2 separate regions of the Homo sapiens genome follow, and region 1 is linked to region 2. Evidence: fine-mapped expression QTL. A gene starts in region 2. The other region holds a variant in brackets. All regions are shown on one strand. Distances are from middle to middle. Region 1 overlaps BLOC1S2 (biogenesis of lysosomal organelles complex 1 subunit 2). Region 2 holds the start of ERLIN1 (ER lipid raft associated 1).

Evidence for each region.
Region 1: its variant is fine-mapped to the expression of ERLIN1 in whole blood (TOPMed, PIP 0.97).

What each region holds. Positions count from the first base shown.
Region 1 is chr10:100,271,843-100,282,811 of GRCh38, forward strand. BLOC1S2 (biogenesis of lysosomal organelles complex 1 subunit 2) reads right to left here. Exons shown (of 5, transcript NM_173809.5): 3 at 9,092-9,211; 4 at 8,282-8,386; 5 at 1,451-3,651. The coding sequence ends at 3,620. Among named protein-coding and RNA genes, the nearest start is that of BLOC1S2, 9.4 kb to the right of the region's middle. The variant G/A (reference allele first, on the strand shown) is at 7,042.
Region 2 is chr10:100,180,461-100,191,500 of GRCh38, forward strand. It overlaps ERLIN1 (ER lipid raft associated 1), which reads right to left and starts at 5,569. Exons shown (of 11, transcript NM_006459.4): 1 at 5,054-5,569; 2 at 3,296-3,377. The coding sequence starts at 5,166. It overlaps CHUK (component of inhibitor of nuclear factor kappa B kinase complex), which reads right to left. Exons shown (of 21, transcript NM_001278.5): 20 at 10,409-10,508; 21 at 7,840-9,167. The coding sequence ends at 9,138. RefSeq lists a silencer at 5,467-5,616 and an enhancer at 5,787-5,936.

The DNA.
Region 1 (10,969 bases), 91 kb after region 2:
AAAGTGAAGAGGCAACCCACAGAATGGAAGAAAATATTTGCAAACTATCCATCTGACAAGAGATTAATAACCAGAATAAATATAACAAGGAGCTCAAACAACTCAATAGCGAAAAAAACCCACAAAAAATCCTGTCTAAAAATGGGCAAAGCCATATGTGGTGGTGCTTGCCTGTAGTCCCAGCTACTCAGGAGGCTGAAGCAGGAGGGTTTTTTTGGGGGAGGGGGAGGGGGTGGGGAGATGGAGTCTCACTCTGTCACCCAGGTTGGAGTGCAGTGGCACAGTCTCAGCTCACTGCAACTTCCACCTCTGGGGTCCAGGTGATTCTCCTGCCTCAGCCTCCCAAGTAGCTGGGATTACAGGTGCTCACCACCATGCCTGGCTAATTTTTTGTAGTTTTAGTAGAGATAGGGTTTCACTATGTTGGCCAGGCTGGCCTTGAACTCCTGACCTCAGATGGTCCACCTACTCAGCCTCCCAAAGTGCTGGGATTACAGGCCTCAGCCACTATGCCCAGTCCCAGGAGGACTGTTTGAGCCCAGTTTGATTCCAGCATGGGCAACATAATGAGAACTCATCTCTTAAAAAAACAAAGCGGGGGGAGCAAAAGATCAAAATAGACATTTCTCAAGACATACAAATGGCCAACAGCTATAAGAAAAAATGCTCAACATCACCAATCATCAGAGAAATGCAAATCAAAGCCACAACAAGATATCACCTCATCCCACTTAAAATTTCCTATCAAGACGACAGGAATTAACAGATGCTGGCAAGGATGCAGAGAAAGAGGAACTCTTGTACACAGTTGGTGGGAATGTAAATTAGTACAGCCACTATGGAAAATTGTATAGTTTCCTCCAAAAACTAAAAATAGAACTACAATATGATCCAGCAAATTCCACTACTGGGTATGTATCCAAAAGAAAGGAAATCAATATATCAAAGAGATATATGCACTCTCATGTTTATTGCAGCACTATTCACAATAGCTAAAATATGGAATCAACCTAAGTGTCCATCAATGGATGAATGGGTAAAGAAAATGTGGTATATATACACAATGGAATATTGTTCAGCCATAAAAGGAATGAAATTCTGTCATTCTCAGCAACATGGATGAAACTGGAGGTGATTGTGTTAACTGAACTAAGCCAAGCACAGAAAAGACAAATATTACATGTTCTCACTCACATGTGGGAGCTAAAAAAGTGGATCTCATGGAGATGGAGGTAGATTGGTGGTTACCAGAGGCCAGGAAAGGTGGTGGGGACGTGAGGATGAAGAGTTTGATTAGTGGACACAAATACAGAAGAAATAAGACCTATGATAGATCAGTAGAGTAACTATAGCTAATGTTAATCTATTGTACATTTCAAAATAGGTAAAAGAGAATAATTCAAATAATGTTCCTAGCATAAAGACAAGATAAATATTAAGGTGAAGGACATCCCAATAACTCTTGATTTAATATTTACACATTATATACATGTATTAAATTATCACTTGTACTCTGAAAATACATACATCTATTACACATCAATAAAAAAACTCATCCATTAAATTCTGTATTATCTTTGCAACTTTCCCGTAAATCTAAATCTATTTTCAAAAAGTTTATGAAAACTCATCCATGGGAATTTAAGGTGGCTGAAGATAGCTGAACACAGTGTAACAGGAAATAAAAACTTTTTAAAAATAGATCAACATGGCTGGGTGCGGTGGCTCACACCTGTAATCCCAGCACTTTGGGAGGCCGAGGTGGGTGGATCATTTGGGGTCAGGAGTTCGAGACCAGCCTGGCCAACATGGTGAAACCCCGTCTCTACTAAAAATACAAAAATTAGCCTGGCATGGTGGTGGGCACCTGTAAATCTCAACTACTCGGGAGGCTGAGGCAGGAGAATCGCTTGAACCCAGGAAACAGAGGTTGCAGTGAGCTAAGATCGCACCACTGCACTCCAGCCCAGGCGACAGAGCAAGACTTCATCTCAAAAAAAAAAAAAAAATAGATCAATACATGCACGGAAAAGGAAAAGGGTTGGAAGAAGGGGTAAGACTGATTCTATGTTAAGATAGTAGAGTTACAGTTTAATTCTTTTGTTTTTTATTTAAGAAAAATGTTTAAATAGGGGCCTTATGTTAGGCACGGTGGTTCATGCCTACAATCTCAGCACTCTGGCAGGCTGTGGTAAGAGAATCACTTGAGGCCAGTTCAAGACCAGCCTGGACAACATAGTGAGACTCCATCTGTATAAAAAATAATTAGCAAGGCATGGTGGAGCGTGCTGGTAGTCCCAGCTATTCAGGAGGCTGAGGTGGGAAGATCAGTTGAGCCTAGGAGGTCAAGGTGAGCTATTATCACACCACCACACTCCAGCCTGGGTGACAATAGAGACCCTGTCTATAAACAAACAAAAAAACACAAGGGACTTGTATGCATAATGAAAGTCTAGATTTTTCAGAGGCCATGATAAGTCACTACAGGGTTCTAAGCAGGAGTAATAGGGCCAGTTTACATTTTTAAGATTGCTCTGGCAGCAGTGTGGAGGGTGGTTGGAAGGGACAGTTAAGATGAGAAGAGACCACAGCAACAGTCCAGGAAGAACAGAGGATAAATGATGACTGTCTGGAACAGAGGGGAAATGACAGAAACAGAAGTAAGAAACTCTTTGGGATATGTAATTGGGGACCTCAGACACCTTCCCAGCTGCTAATGTTGTGTTCTGGGTAAGGCTGCCTATCTTTCAACCTAGACTGGTCAGTCAGTATGTCCCATTGTCTGATGTTTTTAGTGTGCAAAGAAGTCGATTAGGTCCCTAAGATCCCCCCAAATCCTACATACACAGTAGGAAGGTATTTTATAAAATCCTTTATTTTATGAGTGGCAATCGTCACCTCCCTACCCAACACATAAACACACATACCCATCTAGTCTTTGTTTTCATCACATTTCCCAAACTGATCGCATGTCAATGTGACTCACATAGAAAATAAACAAGAGGGGCCCATCACATACGCCAAGTTATCAATACTCCTTTCACCATTTCTGCTCAATCTAGAAGACTCAGCTTGGAATTATTTTAAGATTTTATGTTATTTGCAATATTATGGAAAAGTAAGTTACCGACATTCACAAGGTGATAAGCTGCAAAGAACAAGTTTGTTTTGTTTTCCTTTTTAAATTTAGAATCTTGTTTACAACACATTAGCATCATTAACAGAAAAACGACCATTTACATAGTAACTAAAAAACCAGCCACTTAAGAAAATAATGTAGTAATCAACCACTACCAGAGAAAATAGGTCCTCTCATTTGATTTTACTGGTAAGTCCAGCTGTTTTCTGAACTTTGTGAGAGTCTCTGTCCTGAATATGGCAAAGCATTCAAGTAAAAGGTAGGAAGTTATAAGTGTGAGATTCTGAGGGATTCTGTCTCAAAGAAGGTTCAGGAATAGCCACAGTCCTCCAGTTTACTCGAACGTTGAGATGTTCCTGTGATGACCAGCATAATTTCCTTTTGAGGAATTTTCACAATTCATCAGCCTCAGGATTCAGGTTTTATAAGACATTCTTCCACATTAAAAAAAAAAGACTCTGTCCCATAGAAATAAGTTTCTCATCGCTTCTCCAGCTTCTTGTACTTGGCTTCTGTGAGGGATGAGGGAGAGTTACATCTTTTAAAACTGGCTCTTACAAAGACAGTTTTTAGTTAGCATTTCCAGTCAAGTTTAAAAAATATGTATAATATTACTAAAAATCTATTAGCTTCAATCTCATCATCTGTCCAAATATACGGATCACTGATCTGTAAAACTTGGAATAAGAATTCAAGCACAGACACTCAGAACTGAGAGCCTAACACAGGTTCACGAAGTCCTCACCCTGTCAACAGCACCTACTTAGACAGCTCCACCAGGATGGGGCACATCTGTCACTTGACCTATCGGGAGCCTTACTAAAAAACTGCCTCTCTCAGCACTGTCCCAGGTGCCCTCTGGAACCAGACTGGAACCCTCAGGAAGTATAAATGTATGTTTCCTCCTGTATGTTCTTATCCTTACACCTTACTCCAGGAAAGCAATTTTGAAAGATACAGATATTTAAAAGGCCATCAAATAAGCCTCTTACTCTGACATTCCGTTTTTCTATTAAAACCATGAAAGCACCTGGTTTCACAATTTTAACAGAAAAAGGGACTCTGTCACAAATGGTTACTGTGAACCAAGATACTTTCTACATGGTAAGGTTACCCCTGCCTTCTACGCGGTAAGGTTCACGGTAATCACTGGCTAAATGTAACTGTAGAAAATAAAACTGATTGTTAATCGCCACCCATATCAAATCCCAGCCTACTACAAACTACTTTCTTGAAGTAGTCAGCCCTTGTTAAATGATGAAAATAAAATAATCTGTAAATGTTATAAGGACAAAAACAAACTCAGGCCCGTCTCCCTCTCCATCTCCCTCTCCCGTCTCCCTCTCTCTCTCCCGTCTCCCTCTCCCGTCTCCCTCTCCCGTCTCCCTCTCCCGTCTCCCTCTCCCGTCTCCCTCTCCCTCTCCCGTCTCCCTCTCCCTCTCCCGTCTCCCTCTCCCTCTCCCGTCTCCCTCTCCCTCTCCCGTCTCCCTCTCCCTCTCCCGTCTCCCTCTCCCTCTCCCTCTCCCGTCTCCCTCTCCCTCTCCTTTCCACGGTCTCCCTCTCAAGCCGGGCCAAAGCTGGACTGTACTGCTGCCATCTCGGCTCGCTGCAGCCTCCCTGCCTGATTCTCCTGCCTCAGCCTGCCGAGTGCCTGCGATTGCAGGCGCGCGCCGCCACGCCTGACTGGTTTTCGTGTTTTTTTGGTGGGGACGGGGTTTCGCTGTGTTGGCCGGACTGGTCTCCAGCTCCTAGCCGCGAGTGATCCGCCAGCCTCGGCCTCCCGAGGTGCCGGGATTGCAGACGGAGTCTCATTCACTCAGTGCTCAATGGTGCCCAGGCTGGAGTGCAGTGGCGTGATCTCGGCTCGCTATGGCCTCCACCTCCCAGCCGCCTGCCTTGGCCCCCCCAAAGTGCGGAGATTGCAGCCTCTGCCTGGCCGCCACCCCGTCTGGGAAGTGAGGAGTGTCTCTGCCTGGCTGCCCATCGTCTGGGATGTGAGGAGCCCCTCTGCCTGGCTGCCCAGTCTGGAAAGTGAGGAGCGTCTCTGCCCGGCCGCCATCCCACCTGGGAAGTGAGGAGCGCCTCCTCCCGGCCGCCATCCCATCTAGGAAGTGAGGAGCGTCTCTGCCCGGCAGCCCACCGTCTGAGATGTGGGGAGCGCCTGTGCCCCGCCGCCCCATCTGGGAGGTGAGGAGCGTCTCTGCCCGGCCGCCCCGTCTGAGAAGTGAGGAGACCCTCCGCCTGGTAACCGCCCCGTCTGAGAAGTGAGGAGCCCCTCCGCCTGGCTGCCACCCCGTCTGGGAAGTGAGGAGCGTCTCCGCCCGGCAGCCACCCCGGCCGGGAGGGAGGTGGGGGTCAGCCCCCCGCCCGGCCAGCCGCCCCGTCCGGGAGGTGAGGGGCGCCTCTGCCCGGCCGCCCCTACTGGGAAGTGAGGAGCCCCTCTGCCCAGCCAGCCACCCCGTCCGGGAGGGAGGTGGGGGGGTCAGCCCCCCGCCCGGCCAGCCGTCCCGTCCGGGAGGGAGGTGGGGGGGTCAGCCCCCCGCCTGGCCAGCTGTCCCGTCCGGGAGGGAGGTGGGGGGGTCAGCCCCCCGCCCGGCCAGCCGCTCCGTCCGGGAGGGAGGTGGGAGGGGGTCAGCCCCCCTGCCCAGCCAGCCACCCCGTCCAGGAGGGAGGTGGGGGGCTCAGCCCCCCCGCCCGGCCAGCCGCCCCGTCCGGGAGGGAGGTGGGGGGCTCAGCCCCCCGCCCGGCCAGCCGCCCCGTCCGGGAGGTGAGGGGCGCCTCTGCCTGGCCGCCCCTACTGGGAAGTGAGGAGCCCCTCTGCCCGGCCAGCCGCCCCGTCCGGGAGGGAGGTGGGGGAGTCAGCCCCCCGCCCGGCCAGCCGCCCCGTCCGGGAGGGAGGTGGGGGGGTCAGCCCCCCGCCTGGCCAGCCGCCCCGTCCGGGAGGTGAGGGGCGCCTCTGCCCGGCCGCCCCTACTGGGAAGTGAGGAGCCCCTCTGCCCGGCCAGCCGCCCTGTCCGGGAGGGAGGTGAGGGAATCAGCCCCCCGCCCGGCCAGCCGCCCCGTCCGGGAGGGAGGTGGGGGGCTCAGCCCCCCGCCGGGCCAGCCGCTCCGTCCGGGAGGGAGGTGGGGGGGCGGTCAGCGCCCCCTCCCGGCCAGCCACCCCGTCTGGGAGGGAGGTGGGGGGGTCAGCCCCCTACCCGGCCAGCCGCCCCGTCCGGGAGGGAGGTGGGGGGGTCAGCCCCCCGCCTGGCCAGCCACCCGGTCCAGGAGCTGAGGGGCGCCTCTGCCCGGCCGCCCCTACTGGGAAGTGAGGAGCCCCTCTGCCCGGCCACCACCCCGTCTGGGAGGTGTACCCAACAGCTCATTGAGAATGGGCCATGATGACGATGGCGGTTTTCTGGAATAGAAAAGGGGGCAAGGTGGGGAAAAGATTGAGAAATCGGATGGTTGCCGTGTCTGTGTAGAAAGAAGTAGACATGGGAGACTTTTCATTTTGTTCTGTACTAAGAAAAATTCTTCTGCCTTGGGATCCTGTTGATCTATGACCTTACCCCCAACCCTGTGCTCTCTGAAACATGTGCTGTGTCCACTCAGGGTTAAATGGATTAAGGGCGGTGCAAGATGTGCTTTGTTAAACAGATGCTTGAAGGCAGCATGCTCGTTAAGAGTCATTACCACTCCCTAATCTCAAGTACCCAGGGACACAAACACTCTGCCTAGGAAAACCAGAGACCTTTGTTCACTTGTTTGTCTGCTGACCTTCCCTCCACTAGTGTCCTATGACCCTGCCAAATCCCCCTCTGTGAGAAACACCCAAGAATGATCAATAAAAAAAAAAAAAGGCCTGTGATTCCAGCTACTTGAGAGGCTGAGGTGGGAGGATTGCTTAAGGCCATGAGTTC[G/A]AGACCAGCCTGGGCAACACAGCAAGGCCTTGTTTCAAAAACAATTTTTTTAAAGTAGCTGGATGTGATGGTGCACACCTGTAGTCCCAGGTACTCAGGAGGCTGAGGAAGGAGGATCACTAGAGCCCAGGAGTTCAAGGCTACAGCGAGCTATGATCACGTCATTGCACCCTAGCCTGGGTGACACAGCAAGACCTCATCTCTTATAGAAAAAAAAAACAAAACAACAACAACAAAAAACCCACTAAATTCTTTACTTTTAACCATGTATGTAAGAGCCAGAGCCAGTTAGCAAACCACTAGTACTAAAAATACTAGTTTCTTCCTCAAAGGAAAAGTGATCTTTCAAGAAAATCCTCAACTGACTATTCATTTAAGACATATTTATCTACATTATTAAAGGTGCTTCTGCTTTCTCAACTACAAATAAGAACTTGAGCTTTGTAAGCAAACAGACCTGCTTAGAAATATGGCTCTTCCCTGTACTGGCTTAGTGTCCTTAAGCAACTTACTTATCCCCTTAAACCAGTTTCCTTGCCTACAAAATGAGGATAAAAATCATGTACTTGAACCAGATGTGGTGGCTCACACCTATAATCCCAGCACTTTGGGAGGCTGAGGCGGGCGGATCACGAGGTCAGGAGTTCAAGACCAGCCTGGCCAACATGGTGAAACCTCGTCTCTACTAAAAGTACAAAAAAAAATCATGTACTTACCTCACAGATTATTGGGAAGATAAAAAACATAATACAGGCCAGGCCGAGGTGGGCAGATCACTTGAGGTTGGGAGATCGAGACCAGCCTGACCAACATGAGAGACCCTGTCTCTACTAAAAATACAAAATTAGCCAGGCGTGGTGGCGCGCCTGTAATCCCAGCTACTCGGGGGGCTGAGGCAGGAGAATCGCTTGAACCCAGACCCAGGAGGCGGAGGTTGCGGTGAGCCGAGATCGCACCATTGCACTCCAGCTTGGGCAACAAGAGTGAAACTTGTCTCAAAAAAAACAAACCAAAAACAAAAACCAAACATAATACATGTAAAGCACTAAGAACAGTGCCTGATATATCATTAAGTAATCAGGAAATGTTATTTTTATTAATATAATAATAAATTACTAAGGTTTTGTGAAGATTAATAGATCACTGTAGGCACACCATAAATGTTAACTATTATGTTTACTAAGAATATGCTGGCAAGAAGCAGTCTTTATTACATCAAAACAGAAGTAAAAACGGTTACCCAGTTTTTTTGAATATGCATCCAACTTGTAAGCTGCCTGCTCAAGAGCTGCTACCTGCTCTTCAATGACATTGATCTGATCCAGATAAGGCTGCAGTCCAGCATCTTTAAAAACAAAGAAAAACTTCATGTTTATATGGCTTTATTAACAAAGAATATAGGAAAAGAGTGGAAAAGTAATAATGCTAGTGTCTCTCCAGCTATGCTAAGACAGATTAGGTGGCGTGACATGATTCTGAGCACTAGCAGGGCAGATGCTTTAGAAGACAGTAGCTAGTTGATCAGGCACGACTGTGGCCCAGACTTAGTGTCTCTCATCTACTAATTTTCCATTCTTTTTAATTTCTTGCTCCTTGAGCAATCTTTCCATTACTGATTCTGTTTCTTGGGTACTCCCATACCAAGAAAGAGCACCCTAGAGAAAAGAAACACAAAAATAATAAGTCAATGGAAAAAATATATTCGACTACTCTAAATTAGTGTTTTCCATTATAGAGTTTTTGGTTTTCTGCTTATAGAGTAATCCTTTATGGATTTGTAAATCAATTCATTAGAATCTGGCCACCCTTCCTTTGCCCCCTCCCATTCCAGGAATAAACTGATAAAATCAAGATTTAGAAGCAAAAATACCCATACAAACAAAACATGCTAATCCTCAGAATGGAAGAAATTCATCTTAAATTTGGAATTCATTTTTAGAAAACAAGCTCCCACAAGACAAGGATGTCATGTTCCCTCCTCTTCTCCATGGCCCCAAGCACAAAAGAACATTAAATACAAACATGTTTAATTACAAATATTATTACTTACATTTCTGGTTTAAGTCCTTTAAGTTCCTACTAATGTTTATAGCAATATCTTTCATTTCAAGATACTTCAAGCTGGTGAGTTTATTCATATTTTCCAGGAGCTTATAGTCTTCACTGGTGGCTTGAAAATTAAACAGAAGATGTAATGTCTTTAAGATTTGTCTTAAATCATTAGAATGTGGGAGTATAAGCTAAGTGGTAGTTCAAGGCAGGACCAAGGAAGTGTCAAAGGAGTGGGCCACTTTTGATCTATGACATTTATAACTCAGCCTATGTACTCTGAAAGTCTAGGTAGAAATTCAGGCAACAATCAGAAAACTATTTAAACCAAACAAGATCCAGAAGGTTCAGGATCATGGTTACAAAGGGAAATGATAAACTCATGTCCTAAGAAAAGGGAGGTAAAATAGTCTTGGTACTTCTACAGCATGAAAACATTTAACTTATATACATATAATATATATACTATCAGGCTGGGCGCGGTGGCTCATGCGTGTAATCCCAGCACTTTGGGAAGCCGAGGCGGGTGATCACGAGGTCAGGAGTTCAAGACCAACCTGGCCAAGATAGTGAAACCCCATCTCTACTAAAAATACAAAACAATTAGCGGGCGTGGTGGCAGGCACCTGTAATCTCAGCTACTCGGGAGGCTGAGGCAGAGAATTGCTTGAATCCAGGAGGCGGAGGTTGCAGTGAGCCGAGATTGTGCCACTGCATTCCAGCCTGGGTGACAGAGTGAGACTCCATCTCAAAAAAAAAAAATATATATATATACACATACACACACACACACACACACACACACACACACACTATCAGCTAGGACCTCACTACTTCTTAGTAACTCGTTTATTACCATGTATAATTCTATATTGCATTTTATGCAGTGACATTTCCAAACCATCTGTCTGCTTCTCATATCCTCAGTTCTTTCCCTATCCCCATTCAAAGCAAATGGTCTCTACTCCAATTTTCCTAAAGGCCAAGTCCATTAACATAAGCTGCTTCAACCTCTCTGCCTTACTTCTTTTGTTTTTTGTTTTTCTCTCTGCCTCACTTCTAAACTTCTCTGGATCTTAATATCTTCCCAAGAGGCAGAAGTGTTCCTATTCTTGCCAAGACAACCCCCTCCTCTTGTGGCCTTGAACCCAAACACTTCTACTTCTTCAGGGCCTCTCTTCAATCATCTCCTTTCACTTGCATTTCCAAATTCTCCCTCTCTCCTGGCACCTTCCTCTCTATGTATCAATATATTCAGATTTCTTCCAGCTCAAAAGCACTCTCTCTATTCTGCTACATCTATATCATTTGCTCAGTAAAGCAAAGGAGCTTCACTGCTAAACAATTTGAAAAAGTAGCTGACACTCACTACATCCTCTTCCTTACCATTTACTTGCATATACCCTTGTAGTCTGGTTTTTGGCCCTACCATCCAGAGATTACATGCTCCAAAGTCATCCTGCTCTGCTAACCACCAAATCCATGGCATTTGCTCAGTTCTTATCCTCCTAAACCTCTCCATTGTCTTGGACACTACTGATCTCCTTCTCTTTGGGAAATGCTCATTTCCTTTGGCTGCTATGGCATTGTACTACACCGATGATTTTCTAATCTCTAACTGCTCTTCTTAGATGTCTATGCCAGATGCTTTCTTATCAGACCCCCTTAACTATCAGTTCTCAACTGTTTCTCAGCTGTAACACATAACTGATGTTTACATGGGTAGCACATACCTATGGGCATTCCCAGGCTTATGCTAGAAACTAGCATAGTTTAAGAGGAAATATCAATTTACTCTTAAATTCAATAAAGCATTTGTGCGAGTAAGAATAACAATCACAGGAAAATAACAATTTGCTTAAAATTAATTATATAATAA
Region 2 (11,040 bases):
AAATAGTAGTTTGAAAAGCTCTCTGAGGTGAAGGATTTATAAGCCAGGTCTAGAGTGGGAGAAATAAGAACAGATGAGGCAGAGGAACATCTTAAGCTCAATAAATATCCTACTGAAATACACACAGTTGAAGACAACATGTGTATAGGCGAACGAAAGTAGATAGGCTTGCCTGGAGCAGAAGGGACAATTTGGATGAAAGATGAAATTCTGACAAGAGACCATGGTAATACTAGACAGAGGGCCCTGAATGCTGGCTGGGGAGTTTGGGATCTCTCTAGTTCACCTTATATACAGTCACAAAACGAACCATTCAAAAATATGTTTACTTAATTCCTTTTCTCACATGTGATGTAGTTCTCATTCTCCATCTTATAGGGAGGTAAGAAAACCAGCTGGGAGGCTAAATAATTAATTTATTTAGATTAATTCAGTAAAGGCCATGAAAGCTGTCAATCCAGACATAATAGAGGAGGTATCTGATACTTGGTTGATATAAAATTCCAGGAGGGGAAAGAATAAAAAATAACTCTTAGGTTGAGACATTAGAATGACAGTAAACATTGGTGGCAGTTCTAGGTTAAGGGGATTGATGAAGAGACAAATTATATTTATTTCCTTTATAACATTAATTCAGTTTCCATATTCCACACCAACTTTAAATACACGTTCCTATTTAAACCAAAAGGATATTCTCTAGCCAATTTTCAAACTCAGAAGAACTAGGAAAGGGTTCAAATGTTAAATCTTCCATTTAACACCCTATCTTTATGTACTTTTATATTTCTTTTATGTCCTCTTAAAAATTACTTTCCCAGTATGACAGAAAATTTATTTAAAAAGTGAATCTATGGTTACTTTATGAAGGCTGAAGGTTTTCATATAATTTCTCCATTGCTTTTTCTTTTTACATCATATATGGAATTTCACATTTATATACATTCCTTTCAATTGCCAAGTTTGTTAAACCATTTGTTTATCTGGACTATGTCTTCTAATATGTTCCAAAAATTCCTAAAAATAAATTTATGTCTTACTCTCTTAAGAACACTCTTTTTTTTTTTTTTTTTTTGAGACGGAGTCTTCCTCTGTTGCCCAGGCTGGAGTGCAAGGGTACGATCTCGGCTCACTGCAACCTCGGTCTCCCAGGTTCAAGCGATTCTCCTGCCTCAGCCTCCCAAATAGCTGGGATTACAGGCACGCACAACCACGCCCAGCTAATTTTTGTATTTTTGTAGACACAGCGTTTGACCAGGTTGGCCAGGCTGGTCTTGAACTCCTGACCTCAAGTGATCTGCCTGCCTCGGCCTCCCAAAGTGCTGGGATTACAGGCGTGAGCCGCCACGCCCGGCCAAGAACACTTTTTAAATATGGTTTTATTAATATAATTATTTCCTAGAATGTTACCGTTTTACACATAAAGAACATTCCTATTTAGTCACACTGGCTGGCTCTAGCCCATGTAAAACTTTTTTGTAGATGCGAAGTATTTTAGTTTACACTGAAGTCTCTGTACTAATTTCATTTACATCTCTTATGATAGTTTATTATTAAATATATACACACACTATATTTGTTATATATATACACAATTAAACTCCAAAATCTGTTTACTATTATCTATATCTCCTTTATTTATATTTTTGCATCAGTATGACTTAACATACTAAGCATGAAGGCAGAGACAGATCTACCTGGTTTTGAACAAGATCTATTTGTTAGAGCCTTGATTTTTTTTTTTTTTTTTTTTTAAGAGACGGAGTTTCCCCATGTTGCCCAGGCTGGTCTCAAACTCCTAGGCTCAAGTGATCCACCTGCTTCAGCCTCCCAAAGTGCTCGGATTACAGGCATGAGCCACTGCGCCGGGCCTTAGAGTCTTGATTTTTAAGGGTCTAATGCTGCCATTGCTAACATTATTATAGATTGTTTCGGCTGTTGATGAGGTTATGTAATTAAAATTCCTCCTTTCACAGAAGACTAACTGAAGTCTATGACAGTTAAGCAATTTTTCCAAAGTCATGCCACCAACTGGCGGTAACGCTGGGTCCCCATGTTCATTACACCACATTGCTTCCTGAGAAATCAGCTCAATTTAACAACTTCCACCATAAATAGAAAGCCAGAAATATAAATGTGTTACAACTCCTGCCTTTAAGAAAACTGGAGCCTTTCTGGAAAGAAAACACATAAAAAAACTTAGCAAACAATGCAAGACAACAATATTAAAGAAAATAAGACAAAGGGCCAAAATTTACAATATAGACTTTAAGAGCTATAGATCAGAAGAGGAAGAATCTGGGATGAGCCTTTAAAAGCCTGGCAAGATTTAGACAGGAGAAAAGGAATGGAGAGTGAGATGGCAGATAAAGAAGTGATGGCATGAACTAAGGAAAGAATGGGTAAAATAAATATGGAACAACATATGGAAATCAGTCTGATTAGGGGAAGAATACATTTCACTTCAGTAGACACAATTCTTTCCCTAAGCCATCTAAAAGGGGACAGGAAGAAAACCTAGGGGATTTAAGAATTTATAATTAAACTCTCACTTAGCAGGAAGCCTAGACATAAGATTACAAGATTAAATAACACAGAATTTTCCTGAGTCCTGAAAAATTAGCAGCAGATGGCAGACAAACTTCTGAATCCAAAGATTTATGATCACACTGGGCTTGCGAAAGTGGTCACAGCCTAATCCTGGTTTTGTCATCTTGTTACATTGAAAGATACTTATTTTATTGTCTCCCATGGCCAAGACACTTTTCGAGGATTAGACACTTATTTCAAATATCCCGGGATGCCATCAAAATATAACATTCACTAAGGTTCCACATAAAATTGTGCTTAATATACCAGGCAAAAAAACATGAGGCAGAAAGGCTGTGTATAAAAATTTTGATCCTCCATGTTAACAGTAGCCCAGGAGCCTGCCTCTATGGAAACTAAACACTGTTCTAAACCACATAATCACTGGTTTGTATGTCTAGTTGTGTTTCTAATTCTTACTTTTATTGTGACAGCAGCAACAGAAAATTTGCTATATACCACGATATAGATGGTAGAAGTCAGTCCTTCCAAGCTTCCTGGTTCATACCTTTAATTCATTTCAAGTAAGTGAGGTGGTTTAACATCATAACTTGTGTTGTAACAACTGTACTCTGAACGTTAACTTCTGCATTTAAGTAAATACCACCATCTGCTTAAGCAATAAGGAAATCTATCTCCACCCACAAGTGTGGTAACTCCTGTCATGCCTGTCTATCTGGTATGGAGGCTTCCCCTAGGAATCACTCACCTGCACAGATCTGAACGTAGTAATGAAAGGCAACATGATATGATAGCCTGGTCCACTGGGGCTAGTTAGTAAAGCTCCTCCCCTGCAAAAAGATGTTTCAATTTGACAAAATTATAAAAAGAAAAATTATCTTTCCAAATCTAAAATGCTATAATAAATACTCACTCTTGCTCATGCTGCTGACCTACTAAAGCCTCACTAATATGAATTGCTCATAATGAACAACTGCTTAAAATACCTCCACACCTAAAAAGGGAAAAAGATCAAATTAAACTGCCAATGTTACACCTTGTTTCATAAGCTCAACCAACCGTACCTCTGGGTCTCCAGCACTGCTCTAAGGTTCAAAGGATTCTCCTCGGTCTTTAACCTTCTGAGAAATATTTGTTTAAAAAATTCTAATGGCTTTCAGTAGAGGTACATTAATAGTACATAACAAGAGCCAAATCAAAATATATAATACATTTAATCACCAGGTTGAAAAAAAGACAATGCAAACTTTGAAGTAAAGAGAAAATTTCTGAGGCTTATAATTCTTTCGATCTATCTACAAGGTAATTAAAATACTGGGAACATAAAATTTCTATATAAAAACAAAAAATTAGCATGAAAAGATGAAGGGTGACAAGACTATACAAATAAATAGCATAAGGGCTTGTTAACCAAATCCTGGAATGTGAAAACTATGAAAGCAAGCCCTGGAAATTATAAAAAGGAGGCATTTGGGGAGCAAAGAAAACAAAGTCCTATTTTGCACCTTGTAAATTCATAGAACTTAGCTACCGGTCTTGAAAATATAAACACATTTGCAAGGTCATAATAACAAGGAAAGATGAACTGTTTGAGGTTCATTACTAATTCTTTGAGTCATTCCTTGAAATGTCCTTTCTCTGGTTTTACTGTCAGAAAGACAATGCTTTTAAACTGGAAGGAAATCTGGACTAATCTGTAATTTCTTATGTAGAGCTCCATCTGCTAAGATATACCATTAAAATTGCTCTTTTTCTAGGATTCAGGATGGATTTGAAAGTAGAAATATCAGTTTTGAGGGATAGTGGAAACAAGCAAAAAGTTGACGCTCTTTTTGAATACACCATTATCCCAATTTCTCCACAAACTGGCCTCTCTTACTAGTCTGTATCAAAAGGAACTTGTGGTAATTAGGCTGAAGGAAAAGCTAAGCGAGCTCAACAAGAGAGCAACAGCTCCCACACCACTCCTGTCCCCAACTTGAACAGCAACAGTAAGGAGGGAGGAGCATGGCCCATCAGTGTTGTGCTTATGTCCCTGGAGGTCCAGGGACATAAGCACCATCACAGTCATCATGGTGTTACAAGACGTAACCAGACACTGGAAGCTTTTAAATGAAAAAGTCTAAGAAACAACCATAAACATACAGCATCTACAGCGGCAAACTAAAGCCTGTACAGTTGAACGAACTATAATTTATCCATCTCTTCAGTTAGAGGTAGAGTGACTACTTCCTTTCTTCCTTCTTCATTTTTCTACAAATAATTGAGTTTGCTGTGTATAGGAATAACCGTAGGGAGACTTAATCTCTGCAACAAAACGAACATAGCACTAAAACTGTCCAACATCTGGAGGGTGCTCCGCAAAAGCCCGCTTCGACCCCCGTGCTCTCCCTAGAGATGGGACATGCGCCCCCGAACGTTGCAGAGGGAACAACTTCCCAGACTCCACTCTGGAGTACCCTTTTAATCTGCTCTAGAGCCCTAACTGACTGCACATGCCGCTCACCTGTAGTACACAGCCAGATGGCCCTCCTCAATCTTGTGGATGGAGGCGTAGAGCAGGACAGCCACCAACCCCACCACTGCAGCCACCAGAACCCGGGCTTGAGTCATATTCATTCTCGTTCCTCCTGGGAGCGGGAGAAAAGGACCCTCAGTCCCGTGAGTGACAGGTCCACCCCCTCCAGTTTCTACCCTCTCCCTCCGGAAACTTGGCGCTCTCTCGCAGGCTGAGCCGGGGAGTCCAGTACCCCTGTCCCCTCATTCTTCCCTTCTGGCTGAGCCCGCTGACCCCTTGCCAACTCCTCCGCCCCCGGAGGCCAGTGGGCCGCCCCTGCTCGGTGAGCTTCCTGAAACTCCCTCTCCCAAGGGTCGCTCCCGGGTGGAAGGCACTAACTGAGAAGAAGCCCAGCCGCAGGCTCGCGAGGAAAGCCGACCCCTCGGCCGCGCCTCACCGATCAGTGACGCATCGCCCCCGCCCGCACGTGCAGCCGACTCCCGCGCCGAGCCAACCGCCGCCAACAGCCGGCCCCGCCCACTCGCCCAGCACTGCGGCTGCGCGGGGACGCACACGGCGTAGCCCCGGCCCGCGGCTAGTGAGACGGGGAGCGCATGGGACAAAATTCTCCTAGCCGCGGGCCGCGCAGGCTCCTTTGGAGGCAAGTCGCTTTCTGTACACTGCTGGTTAACTGCTTCGGAAGAGGACAGCCCGCAGTCTGGAGTGAGCAGCGAAGCAGAGAAAAGGAGACGCCCTTTCGGACAAGGGACTGGTTGGTTTGTTCTTGTGCAGAGAACCCACTCGCTCACTCTCAAACGGTAGCTGTTCGGTTTATTTGTCCTTTTGCAGTGTATGCGGAGCCCCACTGTGTGGCACGCACTTGCTTCCGGCAGAGATCCTGCCCTTCAGGAGCAACTAAACTTGTTGCAAATAAAGTGCTGTGAAAGTTCAGAAGAGGAAGATATTAGATATAACGGCATCATTCTCTCGTTTTTTAAGTGTTCCTATTATGTGCCAGAATGCTGGTCCAGTGAGGGCTTTATGAAGGCCATCCAGACTACAGGAACAGAATTGCTAAGCACATGGGGCGGGAGGCGGAGGGAATCCTCCAGGGAGACCAAAGTAAGTACTTCAGTTTCCTTGAAGGCTTGTGTGATGGGAAGGAGTGCTATGGTAGGCGTCACTACATATTCTGTTCGTTTTAAATTAAAAAACCATGGGCACATATTGCCAAAAATAAAAAAGGGAAGGAAAAAGGTATAGTTGGGAGATAGATGAATACAAGAGAAATTAAGGACATTAATGGTTTAAGCCTTGAAAGGCTAGAGGTGGAACTATAACTGGACAAGGTGGACTAGGGTTGTAAAGTCCTCTAACCCAGCGGACGGGGTGGGGGTGTGTGTGGGTTGGGGATGAAACTGTTCCACTTCAGATCATCAGGCATTAGATTCTCACAGGGAGCCGGCAAACCTCACATGTGCAGTTCACAATAGGGTTCGCGTGCCTATGAGAATCTGATGCCACTCGCTAATCTGACAGCAGGCAGAGCTCAAGGCGATAATGCTCACTCGCCCGCCGCTCACCTCCTGCTATCCGGCTTGGTTCCTAACAGGCCACTGTCTGGTTCCGGTCCGCGGCCCAGGGCTTGGGGACCCCTGCCCTCTTGGGTAGGGAAGTATGGGAAAGCAGTGCTTTAGGGCCAATGAATCTATAAAACGGCTGAAAGTGGAGACAGACTGTTGGCAAGGAAGTCAAGTGGTTAGGAAACTGCAGGCCCAGGGTTACTTAGTAGTGGAAGTAAGAAGAGGTAAATAGAATCAATCCGTCTTCATTAAAGCAAGACTTCCCAGACCACTCTACCCACACCCTTCAATAAATACACTTACCTGTATCATTCATTTGATTTTTATTATCTAGGAATGTCTGGGACCTTATCTGTTCCAAATAAATGATATTTGCAGAGCTTAGCTATTTTAACTTCCAAAAAGCAAAAAGAATGGAAAATAACTTGCTCCATACCCTGTTTTCTGTAGACATTCTCTGAAGTTTTTCATAATATTGCTTAAAGAATGAAATGTATACAATTCACAACTGCCATTCCCCTCTGAAAAGTTGTTACCCACCAAAAAATAGTGGTCCAACTCATGCATCAAAAGCAAGTTTGGGGATCCCACTATAATAGTCTGTTCTGACTCACACCATCTGCCCAAATTATATAGATCAGGCTGCCCTGACATAACCCCAGCCACACACCAGCAGCGGCCCCCACGCTATAACAAATCTTTAACCAATTATTAAAATATTAGAAAATGCATGACCATTGAAAATAATCCTTAACAATAATTGCAATGCTTGGATGGCTTGTAATGTTCAGACTCCCAGATAAGCACTTTTACTATACTGCCTATGTTGTTTCAGATCTTGCCATCTAGCTTAATACCCTCCAAGTAACAGGTACCCAATAAATGTTTATTACTAAAATCTTCTAAAACCAGGGAAACAAGAGAGAGACTGCCTATTATAATAGATGACGAACAGTGATATGTGATGACTAAAAAATTTGGTTGACTAGGAAAATGATACCACTAGCAAAAATGGGGATGGTGGGGCTGTGACATCAGTTTATAGGGCAAGAATCGAGCATGTTTTTTAGATGTAGATAGTGGTGATAGGACATCTCAGAGGAAAACACTCTTAAAGAAGTTGCCCAATACTACCTTTACCATAAGTCCTATTATTCCTAAGGAAAGTACAGTTATTCTATGCTCTTAATTCCACTTCATGGAACCTTCATATTTTCCTAAGCCATATTCAACTGTTTTATTATAATCTGATTTTTATAATGAATAGAGATCAAGAAAGTAATTTAAAAACCATTTAATACACAAAGTGAAAAACTATTAGAATATAAAAGCATTTCACATTTTTTAAGACAAATAATATCTTCTAAATTACTTAGCAGATGATAGAGGTCCACAGTCCTTTCTCTGAAACCCTTGGGGCAAGTTGTTTCAGAATTATGAAATTTTAGATTTTAGAAAAGTAGTTTTGTGCATATACCATACTACATTAACCAGCCCTCACCACAGTCTGTGGCAGCAGCCCTCCCTCTCATCATCAAGCAGCAAAATAAAGGAATATTCACACTAAATGGGATAAAAAGATTCAAGGTCAGTTCAGATTAGATTGCAAGCAAATGAATTTTGTCACCAAGCTTATGGAAACCTTGTTTTCAGAGCTTTTTGGATTTTGGAATTACAATTACAGATAAAGGAGTGCAGACCTTTATAAATTTGTATGACAAGACATGAAAGATTGTTTAAACAAATGACTCATTTTTACAAATGAAAAAACATGTAATTTTCAAATACATTATAAATTAACAGGCATCTTCTCTTTGATATTATTAAATGTACATCTTAAATACATATACACACAACAACATGATTTATGAAAGCCAACTAATATTAGAAGCACAGATACACAATCCCTTCGATGAGAAGGGGATACTGTTAAATTTTCAGTGGAATTTAAAATGATTACACCAACTCCTTATGATGCCAGGAAGAGAACCTGTTCAGTGCAACACAAGGAGGTAGAATTTATTCTTCAAGAAATAGAACTTGTGAGCAGCCTTTTTAGAAAAAAACACAGGTAGACTTTTACTTAAAATGCCTATTACTTGAGGTTTTCTTCTCTGTATACAAAACTACATTTGGTCTTACGCCCAAAAGTTAAAAGTTGACACTAATACATAGAAGGTATTTTTAATCAGTTAAATAAGTAATGTTTTACCAAGACTGAAGGCAAATGTGTCGTGATGATGCTTCTAAATAGCTGTGGTATTAAAACAAATATTCAAACAAGTACATTGACTTTTTCTAAATTCCTGTCTGTTTAGAGGCTTGAATTACTCAAAACTGTTATACTTGTAAAATCATGTTCTTCTGATCATAGTAGAAATGTAGTTTCTGTTCATAGCCATTTCTTCCATTGACTGATGTCTGAAGAATGGTTTCATGGGGGAAAAACACATTTCCAACATGTATAGCAACAACTTCCATAGGTTTGGGGACAGTGAACAAGTGACAACTCATTCTGTTAACCAACTCCAATCAAGATTCTAAAACCAGGCATGAAAAAGTTACAATTAGATGTTGACTATAAGTTATAAGTATATGGGTGTTCATTTTTGCAAGTTTTCTGTTTGGACATTTCATAATCAAAAGTTGAAAAATCATTTCATTTACCTTATTTCCTGATTTAAAAAAATTTCAGAGTTTTTTTCATAAATATTTGAAGTAAACAATTATTCTTTCCTTTTCTTTTCTTTTTTTTTTTTTTCTTAAGAGAGCAGGATCTTGCTATGTTGCCAAGCTGGAGTACAGTGGCTATTCACAAGTCCAATCATAATGCACTGCAGCCTTGAACTCCTGGGCTCATGCAATCCTTCTGCCTCAGCCTCCCTAGTAACTCGGACTACAGGTACATGTCATATGGCTGGCCACCATTATCCTTTTTTTTTTTTTTTTTCCCCGAGACAAAGTCTCACTCTGTCACAGGCTGGAGTGCAATGGCAGGATTACGGCTCACTGCAGCCTGAAACTCTTGAACTCAAGCGATCTTCCTGCCTCAGCCTCCCAAGTAGCTGGGACCACAGGTGTGTGCCACCACACCTGGCCAATTTTTATATTTTTTATAAAGACAGGGTTTCCCATGTTGGCCAGGCTAGTCTCAAACTCCTGGGCTCAAGCAATCCACCTGCCTTGGCCTCCCAAAGTGCTAGGATTACAGGCGTGAGCCACCATGCCTGGCCACTGCTATTTTTCTTAATGAAAGAGGAAATGTACAGAATTGACATTAAGACTAAATGCAGGAAAAATTGATTCAGTAGACATTTTATGGTAATTTCCTCAAGTTTTAACAAATCAGTAGTTTATAGTAACCAAATCTTAACACACACTTATTATTACAACTATATTAACATAATTTATTTTCTATTCGGGAGGTACCATATCTGAATTAAAGTACAAGTCCCATCTTAATGGAGAAAATTGATTGCTGAAGCAAAAAGGTACAGAACAAACCATTCAATTTCAATGGTCACATTGTGAAGAAGCTTACCACTCATTTAATTTGACCAAAAATGCTATTATTGAAGATAATTGATGACATAATCCTAGTATATCCCTGAGTAACGGCAGATAAGGATTTAAGGTTGAGGATATTCCCCAAATGCTCTTTCCTCTTGAGTTCTTCTATTTCCCATATGCATCCCAAATGCCAGATAAGGCTAGCATGGAAAGTTAAACCTTTTGCACCCAACATAGCCAAAGCAGGCACCCATATCCACACAAAACTTACCATCATACTATTGCCCTGTTCCTCATTTGCCTCATGAATAATAGTGCTTAAATGGCCAAGGCAGTTCAAATTTTCTTCTATCATTTGTGCTGAAGTCTCCCTGTGAGATGAAAGAACAAAGCCTTTTCAAACTCAGGAAAAGGGCATATGAATTTCCTCTACTTTCTAGTCTTCTAGGTTAGCAAGATCACTAGCCTTCCTGTAACCCAGTACCCCAGTGCAGTTGACTCCTGTAGTCTTTAGTTTCCTCATCCCTCCCTACAGAGGCAGAGTCCTGTTAAGACCAGGCTGCTGCCTCTACCTCTACCTAACTAATGATAAGAAGTCCACTATAACTCCAGTCTGACTTTCCTCTGAAATGTAAGATGCACTTATGTACAACTTGTTTTTCCCGTGAAAATGTAACTAGGGAGGAAAAAATCCTTGTGGCAAAGACAGATGAAATACGTTTTTGTTTCTAAATACTTCTCTTTCCTTAAAAGTAGTAAAAACACCAGCATGCATACTTCACAGACACAAATGTAGGGGAGAAGAGAGAAAAGTAAAATCTGTTCTGTAGAGATCACAGAAAGTGAAAAACTCATTAGAAACTACAGATGATAGCAATGAAACGAAACAAGCAAGCTGATTCC